Regions from separate parts of the Homo sapiens genome. Here region 1 is reported to be linked to region 2. Evidence: microRNA targets listed by miRTarBase, many of them from high-throughput screens and not tested one by one. Region 2 holds a microRNA gene; the other region holds the end of a gene's coding sequence.

Evidence for each region. Region 2 holds the annotated microRNA hsa-miR-19b-3p (UGUGCAAAUCCAUGCAAAACUGA, at 1,348-1,370, opposite strand). A microRNA usually pairs through its seed, bases 2 to 8, with sites in the 3' UTR of a target mRNA and lowers its output. Matches are read on the target gene's strand: a 7mer-m8 pairs with bases 2 to 8, a 7mer-A1 pairs with bases 2 to 7 and ends in A, and an 8mer does both.
Region 1: miRTarBase lists RHEBL1 as a target of hsa-miR-19b-3p. Seed matches in the 3' UTR shown: 8mer at 3,340-3,347.

What each region holds. Positions count from the first base shown.
Region 1 is chr12:49,061,616-49,065,871 of GRCh38, forward strand. RHEBL1 (RHEB like 1) reads right to left here. Exons shown (of 8, transcript NM_144593.3): 7 at 3,735-3,816; 8 at 3,061-3,577. The coding sequence ends at 3,488. Among named protein-coding and RNA genes, the nearest start is that of KMT2D, 3.0 kb to the left of the region's middle.
Region 2 is chr13:91,348,359-91,352,614 of GRCh38, reverse strand. MIR19B1 (microRNA 19b-1) reads right to left here and starts at 1,423; the gene lies at 1,337-1,423. MIR17HG (miR-17-92a-1 cluster host gene) reads right to left here. Exons shown (of 3, transcript NR_197388.1): 2 at 2,845-2,917; 3 at 1-2,459. It overlaps MIR17 (microRNA 17), which reads right to left and starts at 2,010; the gene lies at 1,927-2,010. It overlaps MIR18A (microRNA 18a), which reads right to left and starts at 1,864; the gene lies at 1,794-1,864. It also overlaps MIR19A, MIR20A and MIR92A1. RefSeq lists enhancers at 2,795-3,342, 3,343-3,890 and a silencer at 3,440-4,256.

The DNA.
Region 1 (4,256 bases), not on the chromosome of region 2:
CATTATGAGTTACATGGAATTATCTCCATATTACAGATGAAGATTAAGGCTACAATAGGTAAAATTGCCCACAGAACTACATCTAGTGAGAAGTTGAGCCATTATTCAAACCAAAGGCCACGTTTTTCCTAGGATTACAAATAATTATACTACGTTTTTTTAAAAGAAGATGTGGAGAAAGAGGCAGGCAGATTCGATCCAATGCCAGCTTTGTGAGGAAAGGGTTTACGATGCTGTCCAAGAGAACTTTTTTTATTTTTTGAGACAGAGTCTCGCACTGTCGTCCGGGTTGGAGTTCAGTGGTGCGATCTCGGCTCACTGCAACCTCCGCCTCCCTGGTTCACGCGATTCTCCTGCCTCAGCCTCCCTAGTAGCCGGGATTACAGGCGCACACCACCAGACCCGGCTACTTTTTTGTATTTTTAGTAGAGACAGGGTTTCACTATGTTGGCCAGCCTGGTCTCGAACTCCTGACCTCGTGATCCGCTCGCCCTGGTCTCCCAAAGTACTGGGATTACAGGCATGCGCCACCGCGCCCGGTCCCAACAGAACTTTTCTACAGTGATGGAAATGGACTAAATCTACACTATCTAATATGGTAGCCATCAACCACATGCAGCTCTCGAGCACTTTGAAATGCAGGTGGTACAAGTAAGGAACTTTTTATTTTAATGAAATTAAATAGCCACATGTGAGGTGATGCTTTTATATTAGACAGTGCAGGAGACCTTAATCCCTACTGGTAAGAGTAATAGGAGGGATCAGGACTAGGTTTGTCCTCTTCCAGCCACACATTGGCATCATGTTTTCTGCACTGACCATTCACACATATTTGAGCAAAAAAAACTCCAGCAGTGATCCCACACTTGTTTTAATTACAATAGAATAAGTTAACCAAGAAACAAGTTGGAAAATGGAAGGCCCCTCCCAGGTTTGCACCCAGAGGCAGGGAGAGGTAGACCCTCACCAGAAAGACCTCCAGTAATAACACAGATAGCCACCTACTATTTTGGTTTTTTTTTTTTTTTTTTTGAGATGGAGTTTCGCTCTTGTCGCCCAGGGTGGAGTGAAATGGCGCGATCTCGGCTCACTGCAACCTCCGCCTCCCAGGTTCAAGCGATTATCCTGCCTCAGCCTCCCTAGTAATTGGGATTACAGGCGCCCACCATCACACCCAGCTAATTTATTTTTAGTAGAGATGGGGTTTCACCACGTTGGCCAGGCTGGTCTCAAACTCCTGACCTCAGGTGATCCACCCGCTTTGGTCTCCCAAAGTGCTGGGATTACAGGCGTGAGCCACTGCACCCAGCCACCACCCCACTATTTCTTAAGGACTTATTATGTGTGAAGAACTGTAGTAAGCTTTGCATATATTACCTCGTTTAATTTTCATCTCAACTCTATGAAGCACACTTAGCCACTCTTCATAAATGAGAAATGGTGGCTCTGAGAAGTTAAGTGACCGCCCAAGGCCACACAGCTAAGTGGAGGAGCTATTAACCACTATCACTACTGTCCCCAGGCCTTGAGATTATTGATAAACTAGAAAACTTTAGATGTTTCTAAGTCTACCCCAGACCTCATGAAAATGGCAGCAGGAAGGTAGGCTCATGTAATGAGTATCCCAGGTCAGATGTGCAAAAAGACTTAATTTTAACATAAGGAGAGACAGTGGTGACCTACCAGAAGAACCTCCTAAGCCAGTGAGATTGTTGTTTGGAGTATGTTTCTTCTAGCAGCCCTTATTTCTTTTTAGATTCTGGATCAGAAAAGCAAAAGCAGCTGTCAGGACTTTTGAAAATCAGCATGACAAGCCATATCCCCAACTGTAAGCCTGGAGCCAGGCACTGACAAAGTCACAGCTAAAAATCACATCTAGGTTTTGTCAATCCTTCCCAAGTAAGTACATTGATAGGGTACCTCGGGCTCCCCCAGTTGTCAGAAGAGGTCTGTACCTTCTCTGTGAAGATCTACCATTCAAATAACCCTTACACATCCTTGGAGGAGGTATTAGACTAGTTAGGCAATCAGGCTGGTGGGAGGGTGGGGATCAAGAAAAGCAGAGGCAAACAGGACCAAACTTTCCTAGCTGAAATATCAATTCATTGAGGCGGTAGGCCCATAAAAGCAGAACCAATAGCCTTTGACACCTAAAAAAAAGTAGCACACCACCAAAGGTGTAAAAAGTACAAAAAGATTAAAGGTATGAAAACAGCAAAGAACGGCCATTTTAATGGAAGACACTGGGGACATGGAGGGCCAGGGGACTGATATGCACCGGAGGCATTATTTCTTACTTTACTCAACACTCTTGGGAAGTCAAAGTCTTCACAACACTTTAGTCTCTGCCTCTACACTCCTTCTCAATTCTTACATCATTAGGAATGAGGGGCTTCCTTTCTTCTCCTGAAACCCCATCATCTTTGAATCCAAGCAAATGCCGAGGCCCCAGGAAGACAGCTAGGTCAGCATGTTGCAGTTGGCCACTAGAGGGTGGTGTTTCTGTAATTAAGGGGATCTTGAAAGGCTACAAAACTTGGATGGGAGTGGCAGCCAACTGGACTTAGTATATGAGGAACCCAGCAGAATAGAAAGGTGGGAAAGGCAAGTAGTAAATCTTAGGATAATGGTCCTTAATAAGTGAGGAATAAGGAATAGGAACAAGGTAGGAGGAAAGATATCCCACCAAAGACCACAGCCATCACTCCTTGGAAAAAGAGATCTTGGCTCTGAGCTCTCACTAGATACATAGAAGTCAACAATAAAATAAGGCCGGGGGCAGTGGCTCACGCCTGTAATCCCAGCACTTTGGGAGGCTGAGGTGGGTGGATCACTTAAGGTCAGGAGTTCGAGACCATCCTGGCCTAGGTGAAACCTCATCTCTACTAAAAATAAAAAAGTTAGCTAGGCATGGTGGCGGGTGCCTGCAGAAGACTGAGGCAGGAGAACTGCTTGAACCTGGGAGGCGGAGGTTGCAGCGAGCCAAGATTGCAGCACTGCACCACTCCAGCCTGGGCAACAGAGTGAAACTCCGTCTCACACACACACACGAAAAAGAAGTCAACAACAAAAGATTTCTCAATTTATTTGCATATATACATTGTCACCCCAGGGAGCCAGCTCTATTTCAGAAGTCCCCGGCTCCCCTTACCCAGCCAACACCCAAAACCCACCCAAGAGGATGGGTCCTGGATAAATAATGCCCAGGACTCATATCCTGACCCCATAGGTTATAACAGAATTCATCAAACAAAAACAGAGGGCTAGAGGCCAGTGTCCATGAGAGGTCCTTGCCCCTTTGTAAACATTGACATCCAGGCCACTGGAGCCTGGGGAAAGTGTGCAAACATGAGGATGCCACACTGTGTGTCCAGGGGCCAGGAACACAGCTGGCAACCATACCCGTGAAGTCCTGAGGATCTGCCCCCCACTGGAACATGGCAAGTGCCGGGGGCAGAAGCAAGGCAGTTACCCCACACCCAAGGGCTCACATGAGATGGCAGCGACGCTCTTGCCCATAGGAATTCTCCACACGGGCAATCTCCTGGATGACTTTGGTGAAGATGCCTTGAGTCAGCTATAAGAGGAGAGGATTCAGGGCAAAAGTCAGTTCAGTGCCAATACCACCCAGCTCTGGGGTGAAAGCCCCATTCCCGCAACATTCCCACCACCAAGCAGTACAATAAGGAAAACACAGCTACCATCACCACCCTTCTAGTCTTCAGGCCCAGCACCTGATTCTCTCGAGCAGATGACTCCATAAATGTCGCACCCCAGGACTCTGCCAGCTTCTTTCCTTCAACTGCCTGTACCTCTCTGGAAGCAAATTTGGGACATAAAGATGGAGGATAGAAATGTCAGTAAGTGCTCTGAAAAATCTTCAGAATCAAGACTTCCTGGCCAGGCACAGTGGCTCATGCCTGTAATGCAGCACTTTGGGAGGCCGAGGTGGTGGATCACTTGAGCTCAGGAGTTCAAGACCAGCCTGGACAACACAGGGAAACACCATCTCTATTAAAAAAAAAATGGGCCACACGCGGTTGCTTGTGCCTGTAATCCCGATACTTTGGGAGGCCTAGGCGGGTGGATCACAAGGTCAGGAGATCGAGACCATCCTGGCTAACATGGTGAAACCCCGTCTCTACTAAAAATACAAAAAATTAGCTGGGCGTGGTGGCACGCGCCTGTAGTCCCAGCTACTTGGGAAGCTGAGGCAGGAGACTCGCTTGAACCCGGGAGGCAGAGGTTGCAGTGAG
Region 2 (4,256 bases):
CCAAGGCTAAGTTCCTTAAATTTCTTAAAGAACACATTAGAGGTGAAAACTTTTGTTAGACTTCAGACAATATTTTTAAAAGCTGATTTCTAGATTTATTGGGTGGTCTAACCTAGTGTTATGGAAGTTTATTTCTTATTACTAAGATAGCCTCTTTTACTCCAAAATACAATGACATTTCTCAAAACTTATCTTTCAAACATCAAGTTTGCCTGTACTTCAGCTTGGGCCCAATTTTACCACTTGGTCCTTTTAAATCTATTATTCAGGTATCCCACATTATTCTACACAAATACACATAGGCTAGAGACAAAAACACATGAAGAAAAGAGAGAAGGCAGAAATGCTGGGTAAAACACTAACTGCCACTTCTTAGTTTCCACTTCAGTGACTTTAAGTCAAATAAGCCTGGAATCAACTATCACTGTTGCCAAAGTCTGGCTTACGTAGGGAGTAGGGAACATAAATGTTAACTACAGACTTAGAAATAAATGAATATCTGAATCTCACCCCACCGCTGCACTCTTGGCATTTGGGAAGAGTGTACACATACATTTAACTGTTACTCTATTTAGCATTTGTTCTTTTTCTAACTCCCATTTTTTTAAGTTGCAGATGCTAAAAGCAGTCTGAGGACCTTGGTCATTTATAGCTTATAAATCACTGACAATCAGAAAGAAAAACTAGTATACAAGCATTTAACAGTTACACTTCAGTTACTCATGTATTGGTAAACTGGTACTTGCTTAATAGAAACAAATTGTACCCCAACCCTAAATTCCATGCTTAAAAAAACTCATCTTTACACATTGCTTTAAACAGAGCGGCATTCTCTCTAAATTTAAATACTTGAGTAATATATGAGCAACATAAATTAACTTTTAGATTAAGTAAAATATCCTGGAATAACACTAACTCCAAAGAAAGCAAAAAGATATACTCTAACTTTACAGATGATCATCAGGTATACAGTATGTTTAGTCATATCGCAATACTTAACAGCCAAATAAATCTAACAACAAAAAATATAGCCAGAATTTATACTGCCAAATCTGACACGCAACCCCAAAAGTGAAATGTTTTTGAATGAAAACAAGACAAGATGTATTTACACAAAAAGTTACACATTTTCTTTAATATTTCATGTATCTTGTACATTTAACAGTGGAAGTCGAAATCTTCAGTAATATTTAATTTTCAAAATCTTCTGGTCACAATCCCCACCAAACTCAACAGGCCGGGACAAGTGCAATACCATACAGAAACACAGCATTGCAACCGATCCCAACCTGTGTAGAAAGGGGTTTGAGTTTCCCTTACTTTTCTACAGACTTTTCACTACCACAGTCAGTTTTGCATGGATTTGCACAGCAGAATATCACACAGCTGGATGCAAACCTGCAAAACTAACCATAGAACAGTGTTCAGTAACAGGACAGTTTGATTGGGCGACAGGCCGAAGCTGGAGTTCTACAGCTAGCAGTACTTTAAGTGCTCATAATGCAGTAGATAACTAAACACTACCTGCACTATAAGCACTTTAGTGCTACAGAAGCTGTCACATCAGATAGACCAGGCAGATTCTACATCGACACAATAAAAGTACACAAAATTAGTAAAAATCATTCATTTGAAGGAAATAGCAGGCCACCATCAGTTTTGCATAGATTTGCACAACTACATTCTTCTTGTAGTGCAACTATGCAAAACTAACAGAGGACTGCAAACAAAAACTATTAAAACACCTATATACTTGCTTGGCTTGAATTATTGGATGAATACATAACTTCTTATGCCAGAAGGAGCACTTAGGGCAGTAGATGCTAATCTACTTCACTATCTGCACTAGATGCACCTTAGAACAAAAAGCACTCAACATCAGCAGGCCCTGCACTTTAAAGCCCAACTTGGCTTCCCGAGGCAGCTGTCACCATAATGCTACAAGTGCCTTCACTGCAGTAGATGCACATATCACTACCTGCACTGTAAGCACTTTGACATTATTCTGACTGGTCACAATCTTCAGTTTTACAAGGTGATGTTCTCTTTTTTCCTGCTAAATTTGAAATAGATAATTAGAATTAACACCTCAAACTCTAACAACTATAAACCATACAAATTCAGCATAATCCCTAATGGGGAAGAAAAAATTAGTTTAATTATCTCAAAGATATGAGGTCCATTTAGACACGTATTTATGCCTTAAGAATTCTTTACAGAAGGCAATCATAACCAACCATCCAACTAGCACTGGAAGTGGTGGCTCTTCCAATGGCTGGCCTCTCCCAAATGGATTGACACATAGAGAAAAAAAACAAAACAAAATGAGACTGCAAATAAATGAGAACTAATTTTGGAACATTTAAAGGCAATTTAGTCCATGTGTACCTTTTAGAGGAAATCTTCACATCCACGTGGCAAAACATTTTCCTCCTCTTCTGGCTTCCACTTAGCAAATACTTGTTGAAATGATTAACAAAATTACTGTTCAGACTACACTTCAAGTGTTATCAGTCAATTGTAGCAGAACGTAAATATCCTGTTTAAATCTATCATCTCAGGTTATATCTACTTTATCACCCAACTTAAAAGAGGGTCTAAAATTATATTTCGTAAACTGCATAAGCCAGTTTCCAAAAATGTACAGGAATATTTACACTGTAATTTTACTACCTTAAAATTAGCAAATCCGTACTTAATGAGTTAGTTTTTCAGAAAAGGTACATTGTCTAAAGAAAGAAACACCTACTTTTACTCTCTAAGAAACCAATCCTATTTATTCAACTTTAATAGCAAGAAAAATTTGTTTTTAAGAAAAGTTCAAGAAAATCAGAATACACTTACCCATTCCAGAAAACTTCCTTTTCAGCAAGTATTCTCAGAAAAGCTACTGGTGCAGTTAGGTCCACGTGTATGACTGGAATAGGGAAAAATAAGGAAAAAAAAGATAAAACATTATTTGCTCAAAATTACTACCACCGTCCAAATCTATATTTGCTATTTTCCAACCTCCTAACAGCAATTAATTCCATCCATTTGTGAGAGTAAGAGTCGAGCAATACTAGCAGGATTTAAAAGCCCAATAATTTACAGTTGAAAAATACGTAAGAGAATAAAGTTGAAAAATCCTTAGCTATCAGATACATGTCTAAATAAGCTCCTAAAATACTTGATTATGATCAGCAGCAATCACCGACTCCACTGTACAGCTCCAGTAAAAGGAAAAAAAAAAAGCAGCCCACAGACTATTCTTCACCACCCCTCCCCCAATCAAGACCTCGTGGCTGCAAGCCGGGATAAAGAGTTGTTTCTCCAACTGCTGTGGTCCTGATGGCATGCCGTTAATTTTCTCTTTTGGTGATATTGCAACGACGAGCCTGCCTTTTTCAGTTCCTTTTCCCTTTGCTGCAGTTTAGGAACAGAAGACCGGGCAGGAACACCCGAGACTGCAAAGTGCCCGCCACGCTCATGGAGCCCGGGCCGGCAGCACATGTCGCACAAGGGGGAGCGCGGCCCTGCGATTCTCCGCGTAGCCGCCAGGGGGCGGCGGGTCAGAGTCAGGCCCCGCCGGACGCGGCAACCCCCCCAACCCGTTTCCCGGCGGCAGCCGCGCGGCGACCGGCGGCGCCGAGGCCCGAGTGCGGCGGGGACGCGGGCGCGCCGCCCCTCCTTTGTGTCCCCCAGCCCCCCCGAGCCCGGCCCAGAGGGGCGGGGGCTCCGCGGCCGCGGTGCCCGTCGCACGCGGCCCGAGGCCTAAGCCGGGAACAATCGGCGGCGGCGCGCAGTCGCCGCCATGTCCCCCGCCCTCACCCCCGTGCAGCCCGCCCCGCAGGAACATGGCGGCGGGGACGCCGCTCCCGCCGAGCCGGGCTGGCCCTCCCGCGCCACACTCCCAGCAAGCGGCCGGGCGCAGGCGGCTCCACGCCGCGGCTGAGGCCGACTGCGGCCTCCTCCGAGGGCCACGGCGGGGAAGTTGCGGGCCCCGCCCCGAGGCTGCCCACGCGGGCTAACAAAGCCCACGCGGAGCGGGGGTGGCGCCCAGGCCGCGCCGATCTCGGCGCCCCTCCGCCCACCCTCGCGCGTACAAAGTTTGGGGAACCGCGGGCTCCCGCCCACGCCACGCCGCCCGCTGGCGCGCAGGTACCTCGTGGGCGCGCCCCCTCCCGGCCCGCGGCCTGCCCCATGTGCCGCCGCCGCCGCCGCTTTGTTCTGGAGGCGCTTTAACTCTCGCCCTCGGGAGAAACTTTCCTACCCAG